Regions from separate parts of the Homo sapiens genome. Here region 1 is linked to region 2. Evidence: fine-mapped expression QTL. A gene starts in region 2. The other region holds a variant in brackets. All regions are shown on one strand. Distances are from middle to middle.

Region 1 (11,225 bases), 250 kb before region 2:
TTCTCAGAGATTCATCAGGCTCATTAGCATATTAAAGCTTCTGAGACTTCTAAAGAAAAGAAAACAAGTCGGCTTTGAAATGCAGTTTCTCAAACTTATTTGACCTTGACTCTTGTTTTGAAGTAACAGCTATTAATATTTCAAGGAACACTGGGAAATGCAGGGTGTGAGGCATTCAGTGTAACAGACAATGGAGGGTTCATTCCTTCAAGCATCCATGGTTCATTTTCATGAAGATTACCATAGTCTTCCTGAGAGGCACCAAATACTCCCCTGCCTTCCTGAACTGACTCCACGGAGCACAGCCCACGCCGCCAAACCCGTCAGCATCCACTCGCATCACCCCACAGCCTCCTGTGAGCCAGCCACCTTCACGTGCTTTTTAGTTATTTTATTTAACAAATACTTAACACAGCGTTTACTAGGTTCCGGGTGCTAGTCTCAATGACTTACACATACTAGCTTCTTTACTCCTCATAGCAGCCCTTTTGTGGTGGGCCTTATTATTGAAAGATGAGGAAACTGAGGCATGAAGAGATTAAGTGACATGCCCAAGGTCACACAGCTGGTAAGTGGTTTACTCAGACCCAGGCAGTCTGGCCCCAGAGTCCACGTACACTCATTTCTTATTGCTGCTGTAACACATTACTTAAAACAACACAGATTTATTATATTACAGCTCCGGAGGCCAGATGTGTGGAATCAGTTTCACTAGACTAACGTGGAGGTTGTCCGCAGGGCTGGCTCCTTCCCGAAGATCAGGCGGGGGAATCCGTTTCCTTGCTTTTCCAGCTTCCAGAGAGGGCCTGCCTTCCCTGCCTCGTAGCCTCTTCTCCCACCACTCCAGCCTCCTGCTTCACCATCACTCGTCCTGCTTCCTCTTCGGTAGCTTCCTCTGCCTCCCTTTTCACAAAGACACTTGTGATTACGTTTAGATCCCACCTGGATAACCCAGGATACTCTCCTCCATCTCAAGATCCTTCATTTAACCACATCCTGCAAAGTCCCTTTTGCCAGGATATCCAGGGATTAGGAGCTGGATATTTTGGCAGGGTGGTGGTCGGTGGGGCAGGGGGGGGCATTATGATTCAGCCTACCACATTATGCTTTTGACCATTGTGCTAAATCTAGTTTAATCTTCCTAACAATCCTAGGAAGACGTTGTCATTATTTCTATTTTACAGATTTGAAGACTAGGGCTCCAAGACGTCAGCTGAACTGCCAAGTGTCACCCAGGTAGTAAATGGCACAGCTGGGACAGGAACCAAGAAGTGAATGACTTGCTCCTTCACACCTGCCCTGCCATCGGAGAGGCGGCACTCAGGACAGGCAGGGCCTTGGGGGATTCCGAAGGAGGTGCTGCTTTTGTTACTCTCTAGACTGAGCCCTCCTGACATCCTAAGCCCACTGAAAACCTGATGCGAGCTATGAATTTGCTTTCCCTAGAACAAGAAGCATTTACAGAAACACACCATGTATTGCAGCTAGTTTCTGGGAGTTCACGGGCCCCAGGTTAGGAATGCTTGCTTTTTTTGTTTGTTTGTTTGTTTGTTTGTTTGTTTTGAGAGACAGAGTCTCGCTCTGTCGCCCAGGCTGGAGGAGTGCAGTGGTGCGATCTTGGCTCACTGCAACCTCTGCCTCCTGGGTTCAAGCAATTCTCCTGCCTCAGCTTCCCAAGTGGCTGGGACTACAGGCATGCACTACAATGCCCAGCTAATTTTTTGCATTTTTTAGTAGAGAAATGAGGATTCGCTACATATATGGCAACATATATGTTGGCCAGGCTGGTCTCGAACTCCTGATCTCAGGTGATCTGCCCGCCTCGGCCTCCCAAAGTGCTGGGATTACAGGCGTGAGCCACCATGCCCAGCCAAGAACACTTGCTTTTAAAAGCAGAGTATCAAAGGGATGTTTGCACACCCATGTTCATTGCAGCATTACAGATACTCCTTAACTTATGATGGGTCACGTCCTGATGAGCCCGTTGTAAATTGAAAATATTGTAAGTAGAAAATGCATTTAATACACCTAACCTACCGAATGTCACAGCTTAACCTAGCCTGCCTTGTGTGCTCAGAACACTTACATTAGCCTACATTTGAGCAAAATCATCTATCACAAAGCCTATTTTATAATAAAGCATTGAATATCTCATGTGATTTACTGAACACTGTAAACGGTAGAGTACTGTATCAGTTGCTGACCCTCGTGATCACAGGGCTGACCGGGGCTCTCTGCCGCTGCCCAACATCACAAGAGAATATCATGCCGCATACCACTAGCCCAGGAAAAGATCAAAATTCAAAATTCAAAGTACAGTTCCTGCTGAATGTGTGTTGCTTTCACACCATCATAAAGTCGACAAATCTTAAGTCAAATCATCGTTAAATCTGGGACTATCTCTCTCTGTAGGATTCGGTACTATCTGCAGTTTTAGACATCCACCAGGGATCTTGGAACACATCCCCCATGTATATACTGTACAGAATTTCAGGTTTGCAGGAGACAAGAGTTCTGGAGATTGTTTGCACATCAATATGAGTAAACATAACATCACTGAACTATATACTTAAAAATGGTTAGGATGAGGCCAAGTGTGGTGGCTCACGCCTGTAATCCCAGCACTTTGGGAGGCCGAGGTGAGTGGATCACCTGAGGTCAGGAGTTCGAGACCAGCCTGGCCAACATGGTAAAACCCCATCTCTACTAAAAATACAAAAATTAGCTGGGCATGGTGGTGCATGTCTGTAATCCCAGCTACTAGGGAGGCTGAGGCAGGAGAATCACTTGAACCTGGGAGGCAGAGGTTGCAGCGAGTCAAGATCGCACCACCGCACTCCAGCCTGGGTGACAGAGTGAGACTCCATCTCAAAAAAAAAAAAAAAAAACAAGTTAGGATGGTATTTTATATTACGTGTATCATACCACTTTTTTTTTTTTTTTCTCAAAAAGACTGCTCTAAACTGAGAGCTCTTGCAGAGCAAAGACCACATCAGGTACATTCTTGCGGCTGGTGCTGGGGAGGAGCTCAACAGATGTCTGCCCGCGACAGCTCAGCAGGTGGGATGGGTGATCGGCTGCCTCCCGCTGGCTGTGGCTAACACTTCTAGAAGCCCTGCACACCGGAGAGTAAGCAACCAGCCCAAGCCTGGCTAAAACCAAAAACAATAAAAAGCCTCGAGAACTGAGAATGTGGAGGAGGAAGACAGGACAAAAATAAATCCAGTCACTGCTGTGGTCAAGAAGAGGTGGCTTTCACCCATTCCTCAAAGGAACCTCGAAAGGGAACGAAAGGCCCCGATGTTAATTTTAGAAATAGCTTGAAGCCCTGTCCAACTTGAGAGTGACTCTGTGCCTCTTCCACAGCTTAAAGTACCTGGACTTTTTGACAGTTGTGCTCCTCTGCTGCCAAATGAATGGGGGTTGTAATCCACTTGAGGATCTTTTAAACTTCACTGCTGTTTGTATGAATTTGGAAGGAAAAACCAAACCTCCTCTGAGAGCTGACTCACGTCCCTTTGGGCATTGTGCCAGGCCCTCAGAAATCACCTCATCTGCCAACCCATCTATAATACCCTGTCTGTAAAAGCATCCTTCTGCTTCCACTGGCCAGGAAGATCGCAAAGGAAACCATGTAATTGCAAGAAAAGCCAAGTCAGAGAGGCAGGTGACACGTGTTTTATGACCAATGAGGGGCAAAGCCATAGAAAGTTCAGAACTGAGAGTGGGTGGGAGCATAAATCCTGTTGCCATTGTGGTAAAAATGGGTGGCACTCACTGTGGGAACCTTGAAAGGGAACAGAGTGCCACGATGCTGCTTTGCAGAGGGTCAGGTGGTCACACAGCATCCTGGGGTGGTTTATTCCCTCCGGGTCTCCCCCGTCTGCCATGTTCCAACAACCATCCCAGATCCTCCTCCCTCTAATTGGGATCATATTAAATAGCCTTTCCACCAGTGACAGAAGGAGGTGGGCTCTTAGTGGAGCCCACTCTGTAAATATAGAGTAACAACAGGAATCAGAATGTTCCACTGGAAACAGGTGGGACTTGTCCTCCCCATACAGACTATAGAAGATGTTTACAGGACTTTCTGCAACCATCCTCATCAAGTATAATCCCAGAAAAGTAACAGCAAGCTGATGGGTTTATTCAGGTAATATCCAGGAGACATATTTCTCTTTAAAAGGAAAAGGAATTTGCATGTTTTGTTATGGCCATCCCTTATTCCAGTTTAACTGGTCCCTAAGAGGCTCTAACTACAGCAAGAGGGATTTTGGTTAGAGAGATTGTCAAACCTTGAAGAAGGGTAGAGACGGAAAGAGAGAGAATTTGAGGGAAGATTCCTCCCAGGGAAATGTTTTCAAAATGAAATCTGGACCTATTCATGTGGGAGAGAATGCCCACCCCAGAAGCAGGGGATTGACCTATATGGGCTCCGAAGTTCTTTTCATGCTGTTTCCATTGAGCTGCCTTCCCTTGCCTGTGATGCAGGCAGAAGTTTGATTTTTTTTCTATCCCTGAAGGTGTTGGCAAAACAGAAAGTTTCTCTCCTTCAGCCAGGTCTCAGGCAACTTCTAGTGTGTATTTCCCCACCCTTTTCATTTCCCAGCCAGAGAAAGGGGAGTTCCTTTAGTTGTGGTCCTCGGTTCTGTACCAAGAGCAGGAAGCTCCTAACCCCAAACCATCGCACTCAGGAATATTCTCACCACAAACACCTAGAAGCCAATCTTTCCACTCCAAATGGAGATGGACAGGTCAATCAGAAAGAACGGGCTATTGAAAAGCTGTAATAAATCATGTGCCAAGTGAGGTGTCAGACATGCAAACCAGGGAATACAAAGTCAGAGAGTTGTAAATGAAGTAGTGGGTTGAAGAGCTAGCAGTGGCCTGGTTCTCTCTGCCCACAGCAAAGGCCCAGAGCCAGCTTGTGCACCACCCCTCCTCTTGGCCAGGAAGGTACCCAAATGTCTGTTCCTTGGTAAGAGGCTGACCCTGAAAAGTTTACA[C/A]CTGGAGTTTCATCCCTGTATCTTAAAGCAAATGGGGTGATGGGGAGGGATGTCGGGGGCATGGGAGGGTGGCAGACCCCAATGCAGCCTAGAGACAAAGCCACCAGGCTTGGGAATTAACAGACTCCATTTAAAAGTTATAAACCACCTAAAAGGATTACCATTAATGACAGTGATTAATGCAAACTGCAAAGTAGCAATAAATCATTAATTATACTTTCAATTTTTAAAAACTCCAACAAATCAATATTAAATCTTACAGAACTTATTCACTATGCTGGGGACTGTTACCCAACTGTTGTGGGGGGAAAGGCAGAAATAGAACACAAAAAGCCTGCAGTGAAATACCTCTAAGAATGGCTGGAGTAGTTAACTTAGCTTGACTTGACCTCGTTAACGTAGTTGACTAAGCTGACTTAGTCAAGGAATACTAAAGACCTGCAGTTGGAAACCCGACCTGCCCCAGATCTCCAAAGTCAGTGTGGAGGCGGATTCATTCCAGGGTTTGCACATAATCTGGGTGGGAGAGCATCCGTCATTCCATCACACTGGATCCTTTCCCCCATGCATGCCTTTGTTCCTCACTGATGCATCCAGCCCTCGAATGTGCACAGCACTGTCCCAGGGCTAGAGGTTCTGCCTGGTGGTTTCCTGTTGTGCGTAGAATGTAGACAAATCCTCTTCCCAGGACCACCAAGGCTGTTGTGCTCATCTCCTTCTTGACACACAATCTTTCCGAATGCTGTTCCCTCTGCCTAGAATGTTCTTCCCTTCACTCTATGTCAAGTTAATCCTATTCATCCTCTGACTGGATCAATCTAGGCTCCTTGGAGTACTTACCACAGTTGTAATTTTACAGTCATTTGTGCAATTATCTGACTAATGTCTGGCCTGTTCTGAGGCTATAAGCTGCTTGAGGACAGAGACCATGTCTGTTTCTATGTCCATGTTTTCCCCAGAGCTTGCCCTTAAACATAGATGCTTAATAAACACTTGATGAATGAAAAAATGAGGCACACCTCAAAGGAGCTCAAGGTCCTGGTGGGAGAGACTCTCTTTGGCTCTCCATGTAAATGACTCCATCAGCCCTCTGCTGCAAGATCAGTCTTGCTTGTGAAGAACTGAGTCCTCTGATGGGATCAGGGACCCTCTGAGAGGAGAAAAAACTTGCATTATAGAGGGTAGACTATTGTTATGCTCTTTATTATCTTTGACTATTGCCTTTCTGGTCTCCCTTTGAATTAGTAGATTATTCAGCTGTCTTGAGGCCCACAAGGAACAGGCATTTTGGTCCATGGATCAACCATGGACCAAAGGTGGACCTCTGTGGAGGGCTCATTCACAGAGGTGCAGGAGCAGCAGTATGCCTGAGGCTAGGCATTGTGCATGGAGGTGGCACTGGAGGGAGGAAGGACTTTGAGCCCATCTAGAAAGAATGCTGGGATCGATTGGTTATGTCTGTTATGGATGCAGCATGGGAACCCAGTAGCGAGCCTGTCACACATTGACCAGGCATACTCTGAGGAGGCAGGGAGCTCGTTTTCACTGACTTCCTAGAGAGCTCTTTTTCATCCAATCCCTGAGGATGTCTGCTCTGTGTAATAAGGGGGGCTATTTCTTCACAGTTAGTTGTCATGGCTGGATTTCCCATAGCTGGGTGGTTCCATAAGTAGCCTATACTTAGTTACTGAGACAGGCATAAATTTAGGTCTTTCACATTTACACGGAAAATTCTCTGAAACGAGTCCTGTGAGAGAATGACATCCTAACGTGCCCAGGAAAGCAGAGGGACCACCATGCCCGTCGCCCAGCCCCTGTGGTCTGTGACACTTGTGCAGCCGCTGGCTAACCAAAAACTGAAGGTCTGGGATTAGATTGCCTTTGCGTAATCTGGGAAGCCAAGTCCCTTTTCTGACTGGCTTCTGAAGAAAGAATCTGGTCACCCATTGGTAGGCTGACTGCGTGAAAGAACGCACTTTGCAAACATAAGAGCACACACAGGGGCCACCCCACAAAGCCACCTCTGCAGTGGTAGTGTCGAGTCCCCCACCTACTGATCACAACGTGGTAAGGCTTCTCTGAAGGTTCCAGGACCATCAATTCATGTCTGGAAGTACGGTGGAAGCTGCACATCATTCACTGCTGTGCCACACATTCCCTGAGCCACCCTTCTGTCAGATGCTGTATAAGGCATGGGGACTCAAAGAGGCACGGGCCTGGACCACCCTCATATAACTCAGTAAATGAGCAGTGATGTAAACAGAGGAATATATTGCATATAAGAGGTGCAGCAAGAGACGTCTGTATGCATGAGGCTCCGTGGGGGCACTGAAAGTTGGTGGGGGTGGGTCAGGGAGGACAGCTCAGGCTTAAGAGATGAGAACAGCACTTGGAAGGAGGAGCAGTACATGCAGAGGCCCAGAGACGTGGACCTGTGGGGCACAGGGGACTCCAGGGTAATGGGCACAGGGGACTCCAGGTTGACTGGCACAGTGTTCCAGGAGGAAATGGCACAGATGTGGCCGCAGAGCAGGGCAGGGCCAATTCTGGAGGGCTCTATCTGCCCCCCTGGGGAGTCTAGACTGTATTCTAAGGACAAGGAGGAGCAGCCAAAAGTTTTCAGACAAGGACAAGGTCCAGTGTGTGTGTCTGTTGGATTCCTCACAGCTGTGACGATGAGGTGAGGTGGTGCAGAAAGGGTGAGGAGGCAGGGTACAAGTTAGAGGCTTCCCTAACAGTCCACATAAGACCTGGTGTTGGGGGATGAGTGGAGGTGGCGAATACTGCAATCGAAAGGTAATTTATGCCCACTGGAAAATACCTTGGAAGATATACACTCAGCAGTGACGGAGAAAGAGCTCATAAATTCTTATTGCCAGGTCCACATTTCTCCAAGAGTCTGGCCTCCCAGGACCATTTTCCTGGTCTCCACTCCAGATCTGAATTCTTGCCCCTCCCCTGGTCTCCATAGCTCTTTGTTATTAGTCTGTCTTCTTTGAATTACAGTCCACAGAATATCATCTCCCACCCGTCTGGGAAGAGGTTGAGGGCAGAGCTGGCATTCCACGTCTCTGTATTTCCCATTGGTGCCAAACATACACACGCACGTACAGACATGCTTTCATGCACACAGAGATGTCTAGATATCATTTTTTATTGGGTAAAAAAAAAATTTAGGTGCAGGGACTGCCCAAGTTACAATTCATCTGGCTGCATAGGCTCACGGTGAACTAGTTACAAATTTGTGGTTTGGGAGACAAGTCATGATTCAACCGATTCAACCGATTGTGTCCGTAAAGCAGCTGGGTTCAGAAGTGTCTGAAGCTGGGGGCCCCTGCCGCTGTCAGCATGCCAGCTCACCGGTCGATGTGCACAGCGAACGCTGGCCAAGCTGTGCAAGGCACTCCGGTGGCATTGGTCAATAATGGGGCAGGCAATGAGGCAGCGCCCAGAGGATAAGACACATCTTTTTTTGATTGTGTGGCTTGTTTTCTTGAGGAATGAAAGGGTTTTCCAAATGAAGATAGTAGAATGGAAACAAATGCAAAACCAGAAATGAAAAAGGCGTTTGGGATCTAGGACTTAAATGTATCTAATCCCGGTGTGCTTGTGGACATGGGGGTGATCTGCTTGGCTTCATCAGCAGCCTGCGACAACTAGTGGCCTACAAAAAGCTAGCCCTGCGACAGTGTCATCTCACTCCCAATGAAGCCAGTCTCCGAAGGAGAGGAGAGGGTAAGACCATCTAGAATATCCACCTCGTCCCTCCCCCTAGAACAGGAGACAGAGACAGCAGTGAGGCTGGGCTCACAGGTCTGGCCTTGGGGTCCCTTAATGCTCATACTAATGGTTACCATATTACCTGACATTCTGTAGTAGGTTGTCCTAATTTCTGTAGATAATCAAGGATGGTGGAAAAAACCTGGACTTCGGAGTCAGGCAGAGTAGGGTTCGAATTCTGACTCCTCCACTGACTGGCTGTGTGATTTTGGGCAAGTTAATTAACCTCTCTGAGCCTCACTTTCCTGAGGAGATAATACTGTAGTACATAGCGAAAGGAAGTATTAATAGAAATAAATCTCACAATACCAAAGTAACTTTCAGAGGTCGCCCTTGAAGCTACAACCCTAATTCATTTCTTCCTCCATGACCCCCCATCACTGCCACATTCCGTTCTTTGTCTGCATCTGAATTTACACGGACTTATTTGATTGATTCCTTGTTATTGCCTGTCCCTGTGCCTTCCCACTAGCCTGGAAGCTCTATGAGGGCAGGGATCATATCTGTCCTGTTCATTAGTGTGTCCCCAGTGCCAGGAACAGTGTAAGCACTCTTTCAATTTTTGGTAAATGAATTGAATGAGAAACACAAAGCTTGGCATATAGCAGATGCTGGAGGAATTCTGATCAGTGTGACCCCAGAGACCTAGAAGGACCAGAGGCGTGGACACAGGGGTGTGGCTCTGCCTGAGCAAGTCTCTGTAACTTGCTGTGTGGACTTTTAGGTGTCTTCTCTCTCTAGGCCTCAGTTTCCTCATCTGTTCAATAAGAAGGATGGTCTGATGATGATCACTGAGGCCTTCTCCAGCACTCTCTGGCTCTAATTGTCTTGGATCCTCCACATGGGCTCTGGACTAAATAGAACAGGAAATCCAGCTCCATCACTGGAGCCTCCATTTGTAACTTTCAGCTCCATGACTGCCATACTAAATCATCCCGAGAGGCCAGGGTACAATTCCTGGGACAGGGTAGATATTGCAAATTGCCAGCAGCAACTGGTAGCCCCACTTCTCCACTCCCCCAACCCTTATGGCCCAGCCACCCTCTTGGACTCACCAAGACACATCTGTTAGCCTCAGACCTGGTTTGAACAAACAGGAAGAAAGGAAGGACAGAAAATAGGTGGGCATTGACCTGTACCAGGCCCTATGCCAGGTGCTCTGACACACAGTGCTTGCCTGGTCCTCTCCATAGCTCAGGAACATCATTATCCCCATTCACAGATGAGGAGAAGGTATATTAGTTATACCCATGAAGGCAGCAAATAGCGAGGCAGGACATTCGCCAAGCCTTCTAACTCAAAGTCTCACACATTGAACAATTTGGTGGAGTTTACACCCTAGGCCTCTTATCTCTGACTATTAATCAGGCTATTCCCAAGTGTAATTTATGGCAAGAATACACTACTAATTCAGGAGCAGCCTCTATGGGAGACATTGTTTACACTAATGTAGTAATAAGAGCAAAGAAAAGAGCTGACATTTCTTAAGGGTAATGGGGACCACAGTGACAAACACATCACAAGCATTCTCTGGTTTTGTCCCCACAAAAACTCAATGAGTAGGCACTGACACTGTACCTACTTTGCAGATTAGGGGCACGAGACTTACAGAGTGTGTGAAGTTACACAACTAAGAAGTGGTGGAGCCAAAATTCAAATCCTAGTCTCTAGTTCCAGGCCTTCCATCCTACCACCTCACTATACTGTGGGCAGACTGGTGAGACCATTGCTATGAACTAACAGTCAATTACACAACACTGACACTTATTGCATTTTTTTTTTTTTTTTTTTGAGACAGAGTCCACTCTGTCACCCAGGCTGGAGTGCAGTGGCACAATCTTGGCTCACTGCAACCTCTGCCTCTTGGGTTCAAGCCATTCTCCTGACTCAGCCTCCCAAGTAGCTGGGTTTATAGGTATGCACAACCATGCCTGGCTAATTTTTGTATTTTTAGTAGAGATGGGGTTTCACCATGTTGGCCAGGCTGGTCTCGAACTCCTGACTTCAAGTGATCTGCCTGCCTCAGTCTCCCAAAGTGCTGGGATTACAGGCATGTGCCACCATGCCTGGCCTAAAGCACACTTTAAATAATGATTTATACTAACACAGTTCTTATTATATGATCAAACTGAAAGGAAAAGAGGTCAGTGGTCTCCAGTCTCAGCCAGCATTAATGCCAAATGGATTGGGTCATACTGTGGGATTAGGTCACACTGTCGGATTAGGTCAAGGGCTCAAGATCACTGTCACTCATTGGATGAATGCACAGCAGTGCCAGGCATCTCCGTGTTCTAGCCAGGGCACCTCTAGAGATTATCCCTGTGAACTGTCCAAAGAGCGTAGCCAGAGTCTCCAGAAAACGAGGGCAGGCTGACCCGCTTTTGGAGCCCACAGAGACTTTCAACCCATAAAGTGAAGCCACCAGGGTTGTGTCCCCTC
Region 2 (14,786 bases):
GGGTATTGGAAGGCTGGAGACTGGGGGTTTGGGAGAATTGGAGAGCTGGAGAGTTGGGGACATGGGGGCTGAGGGGTTTGGAAGTTGGGGGCATTCAGATGGCATAATGATCTCAGAGACTAGTGGTGAAGGGTAAGGTCTAAGGACCTGGGGAACCACTGACCAGGAAGGGTCTGGGATGGGAGGACTGAGGAAGAGCTGAGAGTCTGGGAGGTACGCAGAGCCAGGACATGTGGCATCAGACAAGGCAGCTGGTGGGGGGGCTCCCAAGGGCAATGGACAGCCGGGAATTTGAGGTGAGAGGCTGTGTCTCAGGGCCTAGGCTCCCTGTCGGCCTGGGGTGAGAACCCAAAGCTTGGCTACTGGGGGAGGACAGGCCCTCAGGCAGCAGAAGTTCTAAAGCCCCAGCCCTCACCCTTTCCTCCCTCCACCTCCAATCCCAGAGTAGCAAAGAATTGCTGAGAGCAGAGACTCGGAACATCTCCGCCACTTTTGAGGACCTGGATGCCCAGGTGAATAGTGAGACGGGCTACACGCCTGAGGATACCATGGACTCAGGGGAGACAGCCCAGGGCAGGGAGGCCCGCCAAGCCCCAGCCTCCAGACTCCACCTGTCGACACAGAAGATGTATGAGCTGAAGACCAAGCTGCGTTGCTCCTGTGAGGGGTATCCCTGGGGAGTGGAGGGTGGGGTGGGATGTGGGGCCAGCATTGTGGATCAAGATGTGGGAACCTCAGACACCCTTGCTCCTTCCTACAGATGTGGTGAACCAGGCCATACTCAGCTGCCGTCGTTGGTTTGACCGCAAGCATGAACAGTGCATGAAGCACATCTGGGTCCCACTCCTCACCCACCTGCTCTGCCTGCCTATGAAGTTCAAGTTCTTCTGTGGCATTGCCAAGGGTCTGCACAGTTGCAAAGGGGTGGGGAGCATCGGGGTAGGGAGCTGAGTCCTTGGGACCCACTGGTAGGTGACAGGCAGGAAAGCAACAGATGAGGAGGGTTTTGGCCCTGAGGCCACAGCATCCTTAGAGCCCTCCACCTGCTGAATAGCTCTGTGACGCAGGGTGAGTTACAGCAAAGCTCTGAGCTGTGGCTTTTCATCTGAAAGATGCGCATGGGCAGAATAACAGTAGTTCTTGCATTAATTTTTTTTTTTGAGACGGGGTGCTTCACTCTTGTCACCCAGACTGGAGTGCAGTGGCGCAATCTCGGCTCACCGCAACCTCTGCCTCCCGGGTTCAAGCGATTCTCCTGCCTCAGCCTCCTGAGTAGCTGGGATTACAGGTGGCCGCCACCATGCCCAGCTAATTTTTGTATATTTAGTAGAGACGGGGTTTCACCACGTTGACCAAGCTGGTCTTGAACTCTTAACCTCAGGTGATCCACCCACCTCAGCCTCCCAAAGTGCTGGGATTACAGGTGTGAGCCATCGCACCCAGCCACATTAAGGGCTTTTAAGGATTTATGGGGCTAACGTATGTGAAGGCAGTGGCAGAGCTGGCACACAGAGGAGCTGCTCTGTAAACGCTGGCTCTCCTTACTGATGTTTGTTATGGTTGAGGATAGATTGACAAAAATGAGGGAACTCAGGTCTGGTTCCTGGAGGGCAGGATCCAAAGAGAGCAGAGAGGGGAAGACTCAGCATTGGTGTGGTAGCAAGCCATGGGCAGAGAGACAAAAAAGCAGGATGAGGAGGACTACAGGAGGACAGGCAGGCCAGGCCTGCACCTGGAGGACAGGCCCGGGGAGGCCCCTGACCCCGTCCACTGTTCACCAGTGATGGAGGTTTGGTGCCGCAATCGCATCCCAGTGGAAGGCAACTTTGGGCAGACCTACGACTCCCTCAACCAGTCTATTCGTGGCCTGGATGGGGAATTTTCAGCCAATATTGACTTCAAGGTAGAAGGCAAGGGCGAGGGTTGGTGGGGGGTAGATAGGGAGTGGGAGGAGGGCATGAGGGAATAGAGCTAGAGGAAGGACAAGTGAGAGGGCACAGGAAAGAGGTGACCAGGGGTGAGGGAGGGGGACAAGGAGGGGGAATGTCGCTGGTGTTGAGGGGGCCCTCTGTTTCCCATCTCCACCCCCGAACACCTGAGATGGGCAGGGGAGGGGAAAGGTGGTGAGGAGGGGACAGTGCCAAGCCTGTGGTTTGTGCAGACTTGGCCTGGGGTGGGAGCTATCAGCCAGATATGAGATGATGTCAGCTGATGTAGGTGCAGGGGAGCAAGACTGTGTCCAGGAGGGTGGTGAGCAGAAGGAAGTGACAACTCCTAGAGGTCCTGGGAGGGCCCCAGGGACACAAGTGGGGTACTGGGGAACAGATGTCATGAAGAGGTGGGACCCAGGTCTGACGAGGTGGCCGCAGGCTGAGTTTGCTCATGTGCCCTCCACCAGGAAGAGAAGCAGGCTGGGGTGCTGGGGCTCAACACAAGCTGGGAGCGCGTGAGCACCGAGGTGCGGGACTACGTGTACCGCCAGGAGGCCCGGCTGGAGTGGGCCCTGGGGCTGCTGCACGTGCTGCTCTCCTGCACTTTCCTGCTGGTCCTGCATGCGTGAGCCATAGTCCCCACCCCAGCAGCCCCTCCTCTGCCCCGGACTGGAGCCCTGCCCTGAGGGAGGCTGTAAGGATGGAACCCTAGCACCTATCCTCACCTCTGAATCTGAATATTATTTACCTTTGTCTTTGTTTACACAAAGTTAAAGGAAAAGTGGACATTTTGTCAGAAGAACATTACCCATGTTCCCACTGCCTTAAAAGGCCAACCGTCTTCATTCATCCACCTCCTTCCAGCCTTTATCCCAATACTGATTTTTTTTTTTTACGTTTAGCTTTGACTTTTGATTTTTTCTTGCCCTTCATATTCCCCTTGGCTCTGACTTTGTGCCATTTTTATCTTTCCATTTTGCTTTCATTTTCTCCTGCCTGCTGCGTTGGCAGCGACTTTCCCTCCATTTAGAACAAAGTCCTCAACCCCACCCAGCCCAGTGTCCAGCTGGGCTGCCCCGGGCCTTGCTCTGCTCTAGCTCCCCTGCTGGTCTCTGGACCCTCTATTTCCCATCTCCACTCCCAAACACCTGAGATGGGCAGGGCTTGGGTGAGGGCTGCCACAGGGCTGTTGCTCTGTCTGCCCCTATGTGGGGGGCCTAGAGTGACTGCAAGTGAGTGGGTATGTGTGTATCTAGGGCCCCATGGGAAGACAAAGATGAAGGAGCTCTATTCCTGCCCCCAATAAGCTCATGATCGCCAGGCATGGCGGCTCACTCCTGTAATCCCAACATTTTGGGAAGCCGAGGTGGGAGGATGGCTTGAGTTGAGGTGTTTGAGACCAGCCTGGGTAACACAGTGAGACCTCGTCTCTACAAAAAATGAACAAAATCAGCCAGGTGTGGGGCACATGCCTGTAGTCCCAGCTACTTGGGAGGCTGAGGCAGGAGAATCACTGGGAGGTCGAAGCTGCAGTGAGCTGTGATTGTGCCACTGCATTCTGCATTCCAGCCTGGTGTCAGAGTGAGAGCTTGTCTCAAAAAAAAAAAAAAAAAAAAAAAGCTAATGATCTAGTTGGGATCATGAGACACCCACAAGACAGAGATGGTTCAAGGGCCATTCTATGGATTGGCTTTTGAGACGTGTATGGGAGCTGGGAAGGTGCCCCTTGGAAGGGCAATAACTGGGCTCCAAATGGCCGCAGATGCGGAACGGTGGTCAAGGAAAGAAGGGTGTCCCTTGCGTAAGGCTCCTGGTATCCATGGGATGCAGAGGGCAGAGGCTGGCCTGGAGAACTGAAGTGGGCATGACCAGAACAGTCTGGAAAGCCCTGCAGGAAGACCTGGAACTGGCGGTGGTGGCAAGATGGCCTCAGGAAGTCTGGAGGGAGGGCGGGAGGCCAGGCTGGGTTGGAGGTTAGGGAGCCTGGCCCGGGTAGAGCATGGCAGGAAGATGGCTTGAGATGGTGGGGGAAGGGGAAAGGTGCAGCGAGGCTCAGAGCCAGCTTGTGGAGGGAAGGAAGGAGGCACAGAGTCAAAAGCTACTTCCAGGCTTTCAAGCTGGGTGAGGTCATGCACTGAAAGGACAGCTGGCGGGAGGGCAGGCCCTGGCTCAGGAAGCCCAGGCACCACCTCTGTGAGCCTCTCCACAAGAGGGCACTCACAGTATGTCTTTGCACTTACAGTAGTTTTAAAGGCAAAGATGTGGATTTTTACAGGGCCCCAGAAGCAATAGCATTGAAACTAATGTTTCACACTTTACAGAGTTTGTTTAATGTACTTTTACAGTTTTAAACACATTTGCAGTAATTAACATTTTTTCCTTAGCAAACTGAAGCATTATGTAGGGCTTTGGGAAATACATGGGGGATAGCTATATATGCAGGCATGCACCCATGCACACGTGCACCGTGCTCAAGGGTAGCCAGGGAGAGCCAGGGTGTATTGGGGGAGGATGGAGATGGTGGTCTGGGATGAGTTTTGCCCCAGCACACTTCCAGGAGATATGCTGCAGGCAAAGCCAAGAGGCAGGAATTTGTGAGTCACAGTGGATTAGGTGATTCCTGAAACCTCAAGGAGTTTCCCCCTCTCTGTAACTCTGCTCGATATTCATCCTGTAAGATGCATGCCTGTCCCTACCTCAGATGCACACATGCAACTCCCTCCCAGACAGGCTGACCATGCCCTCCTCTGAGCCCCCACCTCATCCCCTACTCACTTCTGCTATGTCTCACCCATCATGTAGGGGGATGTCTTCCTCTACACAATTGGAAGGCAGGGACAGAGTCTTCTCCCTGTTATCACCATCCCCTAGCAGTGCCCAGGACATAGATGGTGCTCAATGAATGCTGGCTGGTTGGTTGAATGACTGTGCCTCAAGGAAGCCCATGTTTGGGGATAGATGAGGAGAACCTGGAAGAGATGGAGACATCCCTGCCCATCCACCCACAGGTCTTTCTCCTACATGGACAGCTATAACCATGACATTCGTTTTGACAACATCTACATCAGTACCTACTTCTGCCAGATCGATGACCGCAGGAAGAAGCTGGTGAGTGGGCACGGCACTGCCCGGGGATGCCTTGCTGCTGTGTGCCCTGTGTGGGTTCATGCTCCAGGAAGGCAGAGAGGAAAGGGCAGAGGGCCCTTGGGCTTCCTAACTGTGTGGACATTTGTTTTCCAGGGCAAACGGACTCTGCTGCCACTCCGCAAAGCTGAGGAGAAAACCGTCATCTTCCCTTGCAAGCCCACCATCCAGGCCTCAGAAATGAGCAATGTGGTGAGGACAGCATGGGGAGCGGACTCCTGGGTGCAAAGACAGGCCTGAAGGTGAGGGTGGAGGGTAAAAGGCACCAGAGAGTGCTCCGTGCCCAGGCAGATGGCACTGCCCAGCTCTGCCCCTCCTGCTCCTTGGCCAGGTGAGGGAGCTCCTGGAGACACTGCCCATTCTGCTGCTGCTGGTGGTGCTGTGTGGCTTGGACTGGGCTCTCTACTCCATCTTCGACACCATCCGCCACCACTCCTTCCTGCAGTACTCCTTCCGCAGTAAGCCCATCCCCCAGACACATTCCAGGCCCAAGAGACACCCTCTGGAGAACTCCAATGCCTGCACAGCCACCCCACCCTAGTTCTTCCAACTGTGCCTCGTCCTTCTGCCTCTTTTTTTTTTTTTTTTTTGAGACAAAGAGTCTCGCTCTGTCACCCAGGCTGGAGGAGTGCATTGGCACAATCTCAGCTCACTGCAACCTCCACCTCCCAGGTTCAAGCAGTTCTCCTGCCTCAGCCTCTTGAGTAGCTGAGATTACAGGTGTGAGCCACCACGGCCAGCTAATTTTTCTATTTTTAGTAGAGACAGAGTTTCACCATGTTGGTCAGGCTGGTCTCGAACTCCTGACCTCAAGTGATCCACCTGCCTCGGCCACCCAAAGTGCTGGGATTACAGGTGTGTGCCACTGTGCCAGCCATCCTTCTGCCTGTTCTTTTCCCCTTTCTGTGATTCAGCCCCTCCCTGTCCTCCTCAAGGTCAAATGACAGCCCTGCAACCTGACAGCTCTCACAGCAGGGGAGGGGGGCTCTGTACCCCTTTACACTTACAACTGGGAGCAGGGAGGGGTTAGGATTCAGGAAGGGACAGAAAGACTCAGGCAGCTGAGAAGCATTTCTGTGTCTTGACCCCTCCCTGACATCCACCCCCTTAACACATTCCTGATTTCTCCACCTGCCCTGACTTCCCTACCTGTCCTCCTGGCCGCAGGCAGTCATAAACTGGAGGTGAAGGTCGGGGGAGACTCCATGCTAGCCCGGCTTCTTCGAAAAACCATTGGGGCCCTGAACACCTCCTCAGAGACAGTGATGGAATCAAACAACATGCGTGAGTGATGCTGAAAGTTTGGATCAGAGGAATCGAGGGCGGTGGGGCAAGGGTCAAAAGACTCCAAGGTAAAGAGTTAGGGGCCTGGGCCTTGGGTGTGGAGAGATGGGGGTTGGAGCGCTTGAGCTGGGGAAATCGGAGCAGGGAACACATCTGGGCAGGCTTGAAAAAGGGGAGCATGACCAGCTTCAGTCAGAGGAGTCTGGAGGCCAGGGTCTTGTGGCTAGGGGGCCCCAGCCCTCCAGAGCAGCACTGTCCAACAGGACATTCAGTCAAGATAGAAATCTGCAAGATCTGTGCCACATTGGGCCCAGCGGCTACAGTACTGACAGGGCAGTTCTGCAGTGAGGGGCAGGCAGGAGGAGAGCAGGGGAATCAGAGGACTGCACCTCCCACTGGGATGGGAAGTCCAACCCAGGGCTGCCCTGCCCCTTGGCTGGTCCTGACCAGACCCCTGGCCTGCCCCTCCCCTAGCCTGCCTGCCCCAGCCTGTGGGCCTGGATGCCAGGGCCTACTGGAGAGCTGCAGTACCGATTGGCCTGTTAGTGTGTCTCTGCCTGTTACAGGCTTTTGGCTACCGACTCCGGAGGGTCATCGCAGCCTTCTACTTCCCCAAGGTTTGCCCCTCCCCAGACCTCTCCACCCCTACACACCTGCACACACACACACACACCACCCAGCTCCCTACCAACTCCATATTTGGGGGATGCCTTTCTCTATCATTGACCCCCTTCCTGCCCCCAGCGAGAGAAGAAGCGGATCCTGTTCCTCTACAATGACCTATTGAAGAAAAGAGCAGCCTTCACCAAACTCAGGAGGGCCGCTATCCTGAGGCGGGAGCGACAGCAGAAGGCTCCGGTAAGTCCAGGCGTAAGTGCTGCTGCCAGCTCCTGGCTGGGTCTAAGTACAGCAGGCAAGGGGCAGCTCCCTTCAGTCCACCCAGCACCCACCAATGGTCGCAGGCCTACTCGAGCCTGGTAAGTTCTTTTTATTTTTTGAGATGGAATCTCACTGTGTCGCCCAGGCTGGAGTGCAGTGGCACGATCTCGGCTCACTGCAACCTCTGCCTCCCAGGTTCAAGCGATTATCCTATCTCAGCCCCCCACTCCACAAGTAGCCAGGATTACAGGCACACGCCATCACGCCCAGCTATTTTTTTGTATTTTTAGTAGAGACAGGGTTTCACCATGTTGGCCAGGCTGGTCTCAAACTCCTGACCTCAGGTGATCTGCCCACCTCAGCCTTCCAAAGTCCTAGGATTACAGGCGTGAGCCACCAAGCCCAGCCAAGCCCGGTGTAATCTGATGCAACACATGCTGAGGGCCCCAGCCATCCAGCTCCTAAGGTCAGGGCTGTGCCCGTTTCTGAATCCCAGGATTCAGCCCAGCCTAAGACACTCAGTGGACCATTAGGAAGCAGGCAGAAAAGGAGAATGAGATTTAATACAGTCTGCTCATAGAAAAGCAAGAGGGCCGCACAGAAACAGGAGGCCCAAGGCAAAACCAAAGTTTCTACCAGAGGGCTGCAGACCAGAAGCTCAGTGCAGTTCAAGGGACAGGAGGAGGCAGGTGGGCTGGGAGTCAGGAAGGCCTCATGCAGGGGCACATGGTAAGGCACATGGAATCTGAGGAAGCAGACTCCAGTCCATACTCCCTCATTAAGTTGTGTCACCTTGGCCAAGGTCTTCACTGAGCCTCAGTTTCTCCCTCTGAAGAATGGCAAGACTGGAGAGATCTGTAAGGCCTGCTCACTGGAGATCAGCCTAGAGTGGTGGTCAGGTGTGGGACTCCGGTGCCAGAGGGCCTAAGTGTGTATCCCGGCTCCTTCCCTCATTACTATGACAACGGTGTGACCTTGAGCACATGACTTAACTGCTGTGCCTGGGCTTTTGCCTTCCATAAAATGGGGTTAACTACTCCATCTGGTTGTTTTAAGGATTAAATGAGTTGTACTTACATGGTGCTGGCATGCAGCAAGTTCCATATGCATGCATGTTATCATTGGGTGACCCTGGGCAGTGATCACATCTCCAAGCATCAGTTTTCTCACCTGAAAAAAAGGAGATGATAATAACACTATCTGCCTTACATGACAATTGAATTGAATTTTTTTTTTTTTTTGAGACTAAGTCTCACTCTGTCGCCCAGGCTGGAGTGCAGTGGCGTGATCTTGGCTCACTGCAACCTCCACCTCCCCAGTTCAAGCGATTCTCGTGCCTCAGCTTCCCGAGTAGCTGGGATTACAGGCACACACTACCACGCCCGGCTAATTTAGAATTGAAATAATTTATGTACAGTATCTTAGTACAGGACCTGACATTATAAACAATGAGTGGCAGCCATTCTTATTTAATCAGTCCTAACAAAGTTCATAAAAGTGAGACTGTGTTTGCTTAGCTTTTTCCCTAGGGCCTGGATACCCCCAGCCCCCATGACACACAATAGGGGCCAAATGAATGTGTTGTGAAAAAATGAAAAACAAAAAACAAAAAAGAACATGCTGGGATTCCTTGACAGGGTCGTGAAGCAAACTGAATGTGAATGCACAGATGGAAATGTGCCAGACAGTCATTCCAAGCAGAATGTGCAAAGACTCAGTCCACAGGGAATGCGAAGTGCCAGGGCTAGTCTCAGGAGAAACTGGCTCAGAAGAGACAGCTCTCAGGGAGGGCTAAAGTAGGAAAGAGGCTAGAAAGGGACCAGGTGAGGGAAGGCTCTGAAGGCCAAGCCCAAGAGTTCTGCCTGTCTGGCAGGCAGCAGGGCCTCTGGAGTTTCTTGGGCAAAGAGTGGCTGCTTCCTGGGTAAGGTGGCCTGTGGAAAATCCCTGACAACTGTGTAGAGACATGTCGTGAGGGATGGCAGGGAGCATAGTGAACTAGGTTTGTGGTTTGGAATCAGGGCCCCTGGGGTCCAGCCAAGTTGGATTGTTTACTATCTGTGTGACTTTGAGAGTCACTTCACCTTTCTCAACTGTAAAGTGGGGATAGCAACAGTGATAGTCGATCTGGCCTGCTCACTTCTCAGCCTCACTGTGAGAACCAAATAAGATGATTTACAGGAAAGTGCAAATGAGAGTTGTGGCTGATATCCGCTTGGAGAGAGCCTGGAGGGTGCATCCTCCCATTCTCCATCACAGAGTTGGGGAGGGAGGCACCCTCGCCCTCCAGGGGTTTCCTTTGTCCAACCCAGCCTCCTCCAACACGCGGGAATTGTCAGGCCTGGCGACTTCAGACAGGAAACGCTGTCCAGTTCCCCTTCTTTCCCGCCTCGCTCCCGGGCTGGCGCTAACGCCCACCTCCCAACAGCGCCACCCGCTGGCGGATATCCTGCACCGCGGCTGCCCGCTCCTGCGCCGCTGGCTGTGCCGGCGCTGCGTGGTGTGCCAGGCACCCGAGACGCCCGAGTCCTACGTGTGCCGGACGCTGGACTGCGAGGCCGTGTACTGCTGGTCGTGCTGGGACGACATGCGGCAGCGGTGCCCGGTCTGCACGCCCCGCGAAGAGCTCTCTTCCTCCGCCTTTAGTGACAGCAACGACGACACTGCCTACGCGGGGTGAAGAGGCGTCCTGCTCGCTCTTCCGCACCGTCCTTCCCGGTTAATAAAATGCCCTGTACGCTTCACGTGGGTCGGGGACTGGGGTGAGCCGCGCACTGCCTCGCCTGCAGTCGGGAAAGCCTGCCCGCCCGACCTCTCCGAGCCAGGCCGCGCACAGGAGGCAGGGAGGCCGCGAAGCTACTAGGGAGGGGTCCGGACCTGGCGCCGGGTGAAGGCGCGCCGCCCAAGCCGGTCGGACCGGGCACCGGCTCCCACTCCGCACAGTTGCGGGGAAGCGGTAGCGCTGAGCAGCGCGGGCGTAGTGGGCGGTGTCCCCGCTCCCGAGGCACCCGGCGCGCAGCGGGGCGGGCTTTGCCGGGGGCGGAGCTTGGCTTGGGGCCGGGTGGGAGGGGGCGGGCCGGGGCGGGGCCTGGTGGCCGCGCGGCGCTGCTGGGTTCTCCGAGGCGACCTGGCCGCCGGCCGCTCCTCCGCGCGCTGTTCCGCACTTGCTGCCCTCGCCCGGCCCGGAGCGCCGCTGCCATGCGGCTGGCGCTGCTCTGGGCCCTGGGGCTCCTGGGCGCGGGCAGCCCTCTGCCTTCCTGGCCGCTCCCAAATATAGGTGAGTCCTCCGCCTGGAGTGGGTCGGGGGGCGGACTGGGAGGGAGGTGCAGGAAAGTCGGAAGGCATTAGGGTAATGGGGCCGGACGGAGACCCTGGGAGAGCCCAGCCAGAGCGCGGCCCGCCCTGGTCCGCTGTCCTGGGCCTAGGGCCCGGTGACTTGGCGATGGGGTGAAAAGAGAAGGAGGGGGGATGCCGGCGCCCCCTGCCTCCTGCCTGGTCATCCTCTGCGCGGTCCCTGCGGACACTTTCAGGCTCAGGTACCAGGTACCGAGGGGCCTGTCCAGCGCCACTTCAAGATCGTGATGAGAGGGTCGCTGCTCCCCAGGACTGGCATCTTCGCTGCTCTGGGGCCTAGCTAACCGTTCGACCCGGTGCCAGGGCGCTGAGCGGGCATGGCTTGTAGGGTTTAGTGAAGAGGATTCTCTCTAGCCTCTATTCCAGGCCTGGGGCCGCCAGGCACTCCTCACCCTGGTGCTGTTGCCACCAGTGCCTGGCCGAGCGGGAGGGGCCCGAGATGAGCCAGGAGAAGGGAGAATTGGCCAGGAAAGAGGCTGGGACACCAACTCCTCCTTGGAACTTTCACTTCCCGCTGCTGTCTTGGGCCGGGACCGAGAGGGCAGGCGCGGGTGGAGTGTCCGGAGGAGAGAGGGCCATTGTGTGTTGGGGGGGTGGGGGGTGCTCGAGGAGGAAGCAGAGGCTGTAGGCAGCGGGTGTGCCTGACTGGGCATGAGGGTGTTTAGGGAGGTGGGGGTGTTTGCACTGCTCACCCAGAAATGGGCGTTCCTGGCATCTCCGATGTGAGCGAAGGGGAGGGTGAGCGGGCACCCGGCCACAAGGCTTAGCTCAGTCTCGAGAGGGGGCGTTCCTGAAGTGGGGGGAGAGTGATTGGGAGGGAGTGGGAACCGGGGAGGGTCCTGTGAGAACCTGGGATTGGCCGGAAGGGGACAAGGAGGGCCACAGGCTGCGCAAGCCGAAAGTCTTTCTTGGGGACTTGTGAATGGGTTGGTGGGTGGAAAGCCATAAATTAGAGAGACACCCTCTCCTTCCAGTATTCTTCTTTAAGTCTCAGCATGCAATGTGGAAGCCCCTCAGGTACCTAAGGGTCTTGATGGGCTGGGAGCTGGTGGATCTGAGGGCACCTGTCACCCCCAGCCCTGCTGTCGATTCCCTCAGTACTGTCTTGGGGTGTCCTGGGACCTGCAGGTGGCACTGAGGAGCAGCAGGCAGAGTCAGAGAAGGCCCCGAGGGAGCCCTTGGAGCCCCAGGTCCTTCAGGACGATCTCCCAATTAGCCTCAAAAAGGTGCTTCAGGTGAGCTCTCACTCCCCTCTAATAAATAAACGAATCCACACACGCCCCGGTATAGCCAGGTGTCTCAAAGCCAAAGCTTGGCTGAGGAGCTGGTGGGTAGAGCTCACTGTAGTGGGTCTATCCCAGGCCCAGCTGCCTCTCCCACCACACCCCAGCACCTGGCTTCACTTATCTCCCTCTCCCTCTGCACACACGTGTATCTGTCTGCCTCAGCCCCACCCAACCCATCCATCTCCACTGGGGAAATTGTGAAGCCAAACTTGCTTTCTTCATCTCATGTTGTCGGTTTTCTCAGTGGGGGGATTTGGAAAGAGTCAGGACCTTACCAAACCCCCCCCCCCCCACCCCATTCTAAAGCTGAGTCAGAGGAAGGGCTGGGGCTTGTGCTGGGTCCTACACGGTGCTTCCTCTCTGGGCAGGAAGCCGAGAAGGGGTGGCTCAGATACCTTCCTTGACCTCCGCACACAACCCCCCAGAACAATGCTCCAGGCCAGGCAGGGTTTCCTGGCCCCTCCCCTGGGATCCCCCCACCAGTGATCTAATTGCTGGTGCTCTTCTGTGGGCCTGAGGTTTTCTGGTTAGAGAGGCTGGGAGTTGTGGACAGGTCTAGGGAGGTGACCTGCCCTCTGGTGCCCACAGACCAGTCTGCCTGAGCCCCTGAGGATCAAGTTGGAGCTGGACGGTGACAGTCATATCCTGGAGCTGCTACAGAATAGGTAATAGTGATGGTGGCAATAACAGTGACCACATGGCCAACAACTTGTATAGCATTTATTATGTGCCAGGTACTAAGTGCTTGTGCTCATTTAATCCTCATAACAGCCCTATAAGGGATATACTATCATGTATTATTGTCCTCACTTTATACATGAGGAAGTCAAGGCACAGAGAGATTAAATAACTTGCCCCAGGTCACACAGCTAGTATGTGGTGAAAACCAGATTGGAATTCAAATAAACTAACAGAGTCAGTGGCCCAACCAGTATACTTTGCTGCCCCGGGGTCAGGAGTGGAAAAGTTGGCTGCGGGGGTTGCCTGGTCCCCAGCCCCACAACCACCTTCAAGCCTCTGCTTGTCAATGCACGACCTGGGAAGTGGCTTTAGCACTGCCTTCTTTTTCTTCACTCCACAGGGAGTTGGTCCCAGGCCGCCCAACCCTGGTGTGGTACCAGCCCGATGGCACTCGGGTGGTCAGTGAGGGACACACTTTGGTGAGTCAGGCCCTCTTGTGCCATTTTTGGCTTAGGGGAAAGAGGGAGGGGGTGGCTGGAAGGTGAGAGGACACTGCATATTTTTACCGTCAAGCTAGGCTCCTCAGTTCCAGTCCTGGTGTGCTCTCTGAGACAGCACTAATGTTGTTCCCATGCTGCAGGAGAACTGCTGCTACCAGGGAAGAGTGCGGGGATATGCAGGCTCCTGGGTGTCCATCTGCACCTGCTCTGGGCTCAGGTATACTGGGCGGATTTAATGACAGTAGAGAAAGTAAGGAGACCCAGGCATGGAGCTGAAATGTTCTCTGACTTTCTTTTTTCTTAGAGGCTTGGTGGTCCTGACCCCAGAGAGAAGCTATACCCTGGAGCAGGGGCCTGGGGACCTTCAGGGTCCTCCCATTATTTCGCGAATCCAAGATCTCCACCTGCCAGGCCACACCTGTGCCCTGAGCTGGCGGGAATCTGTACACACTCAGAAGCCACCAGAGCACCCCCTGGGACAGCGCCACATTCGCCGGGTGAGGATGAATGGCAGGGGGGTGGGCTTTGGTTGTCTTGAGGGCTGATCCCCAGACACTTAGAGCTATGTGTGCACAGTAACAACAGCTCCTGCGAATGGAGCACTTTCCACATGCTGGGCACTTTGTGAACATTAGCTCGTGTACTCCTCCCATACCTAGGAGGTAGGTGCTATCAATAGCTCTATTTTAAAATGACGAAACCTTACAAAAAGTATCTGGGCATGGTGGCGTGCACCCGTAGTTCCAGCCACTCAGGAGGCCGAAGTGGAAGAATCGCTTGAGCCCAGGAGGCAGAGGTTTCAGTGGGCCGAGATCGAGCCACTACACACCAGCCTGGGTGAAAGAGTGAGACCTCGTCTCAAAAAATAAAATAAAAATAAAATAAAATAAAATCTAGCTGAGACAGATTAGGTGGTTTGCCCGAGGCCCTACAACTAATAAATGGCCTATCCATTTATTAGTTGTATTTGGCTCTTCATCTGTCTTATGATCCCATTTGCAGAGAGCTCTCACTTGGTTATAGATAATACATAGTTACCAATGATGAAGCAATATAAACCCAATTTCCTAATTTGTAAAATGAAGATAATAAAACTACTTGCTGCATAGAGTTGCTGGGAAGATTAAATAAGTCCATATAGATGTAAAGTGCTTAAAACTATGCCAGACCTATGGTAAGTGACAAGAGTTGTTATTGGGATTTTTAAAAATTATTATTATTATTATTATTATTTGAGACAGAGTCTCGCTCTGTCTCCCAGGCTGGAGTGCAGTGGCATGATCTCGGCTCACTGCAAGCTCCGCCTCCCAGGTTCACGCCATTCTCTTGCCTCAGCCTCCCGAGTAGCTGGGACTACAGGCGCCCGCCACTACACCCGGCTAATGTTTTGTATTTTTTAGTACAGACAGGGTTTCACCGTGTTATCCAGGATGGTCTCGATCTCCTGACCTCATGATCCACCCGCCTTGTCCTCCCAAAGTGCTGAGATTACAGGCGTGAGCCACCGCACCCAGCTAAATTACTGTTTTTTAAAAATTTGAAAAAAACCACTGAGTTTGGAGCCAGAAAAGCAGGGGTCTACTCCAACCTTCATTATCTACTTCCTGGTCCTCCTTGGCAAGTTCCTGGGCCCTCTGGCCTTCAGTGGCTCATCTGTAAAATGGGCTCTTCACCCTCCTATTTGACCCACAGAGTAGGAGTGGCTGCCTCTTGGTCAGCCCGGCACAGCT

What was found.
Region 1: its variant is fine-mapped to the expression of ADAM15 in whole blood (INTERVAL, PIP 0.98).

Annotation. Positions count from the first base shown.
Region 1 is chr1:154,788,359-154,799,583 of GRCh38, forward strand. All of the region lies in intron 2 of KCNN3 (potassium calcium-activated channel subfamily N member 3), which reads right to left. Among named protein-coding and RNA genes, the nearest start is that of KCNN3, 76 kb to the right of the region's middle. RefSeq lists an enhancer at 3,107-3,416. The variant C/A (reference allele first, on the strand shown) is at 5,007.
Region 2 is chr1:155,040,954-155,055,739 of GRCh38, forward strand. ADAM15 (ADAM metallopeptidase domain 15) reads left to right here and starts at 10,363. Exons shown (of 23, transcript NM_207197.3): 1 at 10,363-10,512; 2 at 11,718-11,824; 3 at 12,464-12,540; 4 at 12,957-13,035; 5 at 13,197-13,273; 6 at 13,361-13,553. The coding sequence starts at 10,434. It overlaps DCST1 (DC-STAMP domain containing 1), which reads left to right. Exons shown (of 17, transcript NM_152494.4): 7 at 444-660; 8 at 761-904; 9 at 1,782-1,903; 10 at 2,399-2,556; 11 at 4,940-5,039; 12 at 5,172-5,267; 13 at 5,407-5,533; 14 at 6,243-6,359; 15 at 6,834-6,976; 16 at 7,104-7,217; 17 at 9,664-9,977. The coding sequence ends at 9,915. It overlaps DCST1-AS1 (DCST1 antisense RNA 1), which reads right to left. Exons shown (of 4, transcript NR_040773.1): 2 at 8,316-8,408; 3 at 5,007-5,202; 4 at 4,238-4,900. ADAM15-EFNA4 (ADAM15-EFNA4 readthrough) reads left to right here and starts at 10,363. Exons shown (of 26, transcript NR_176418.1): 1 at 10,363-10,512; 2 at 11,718-11,824; 3 at 12,464-12,540; 4 at 12,957-13,035; 5 at 13,197-13,273; 6 at 13,361-13,553. RefSeq lists an enhancer at 9,538-9,597 and a silencer at 10,068-10,527.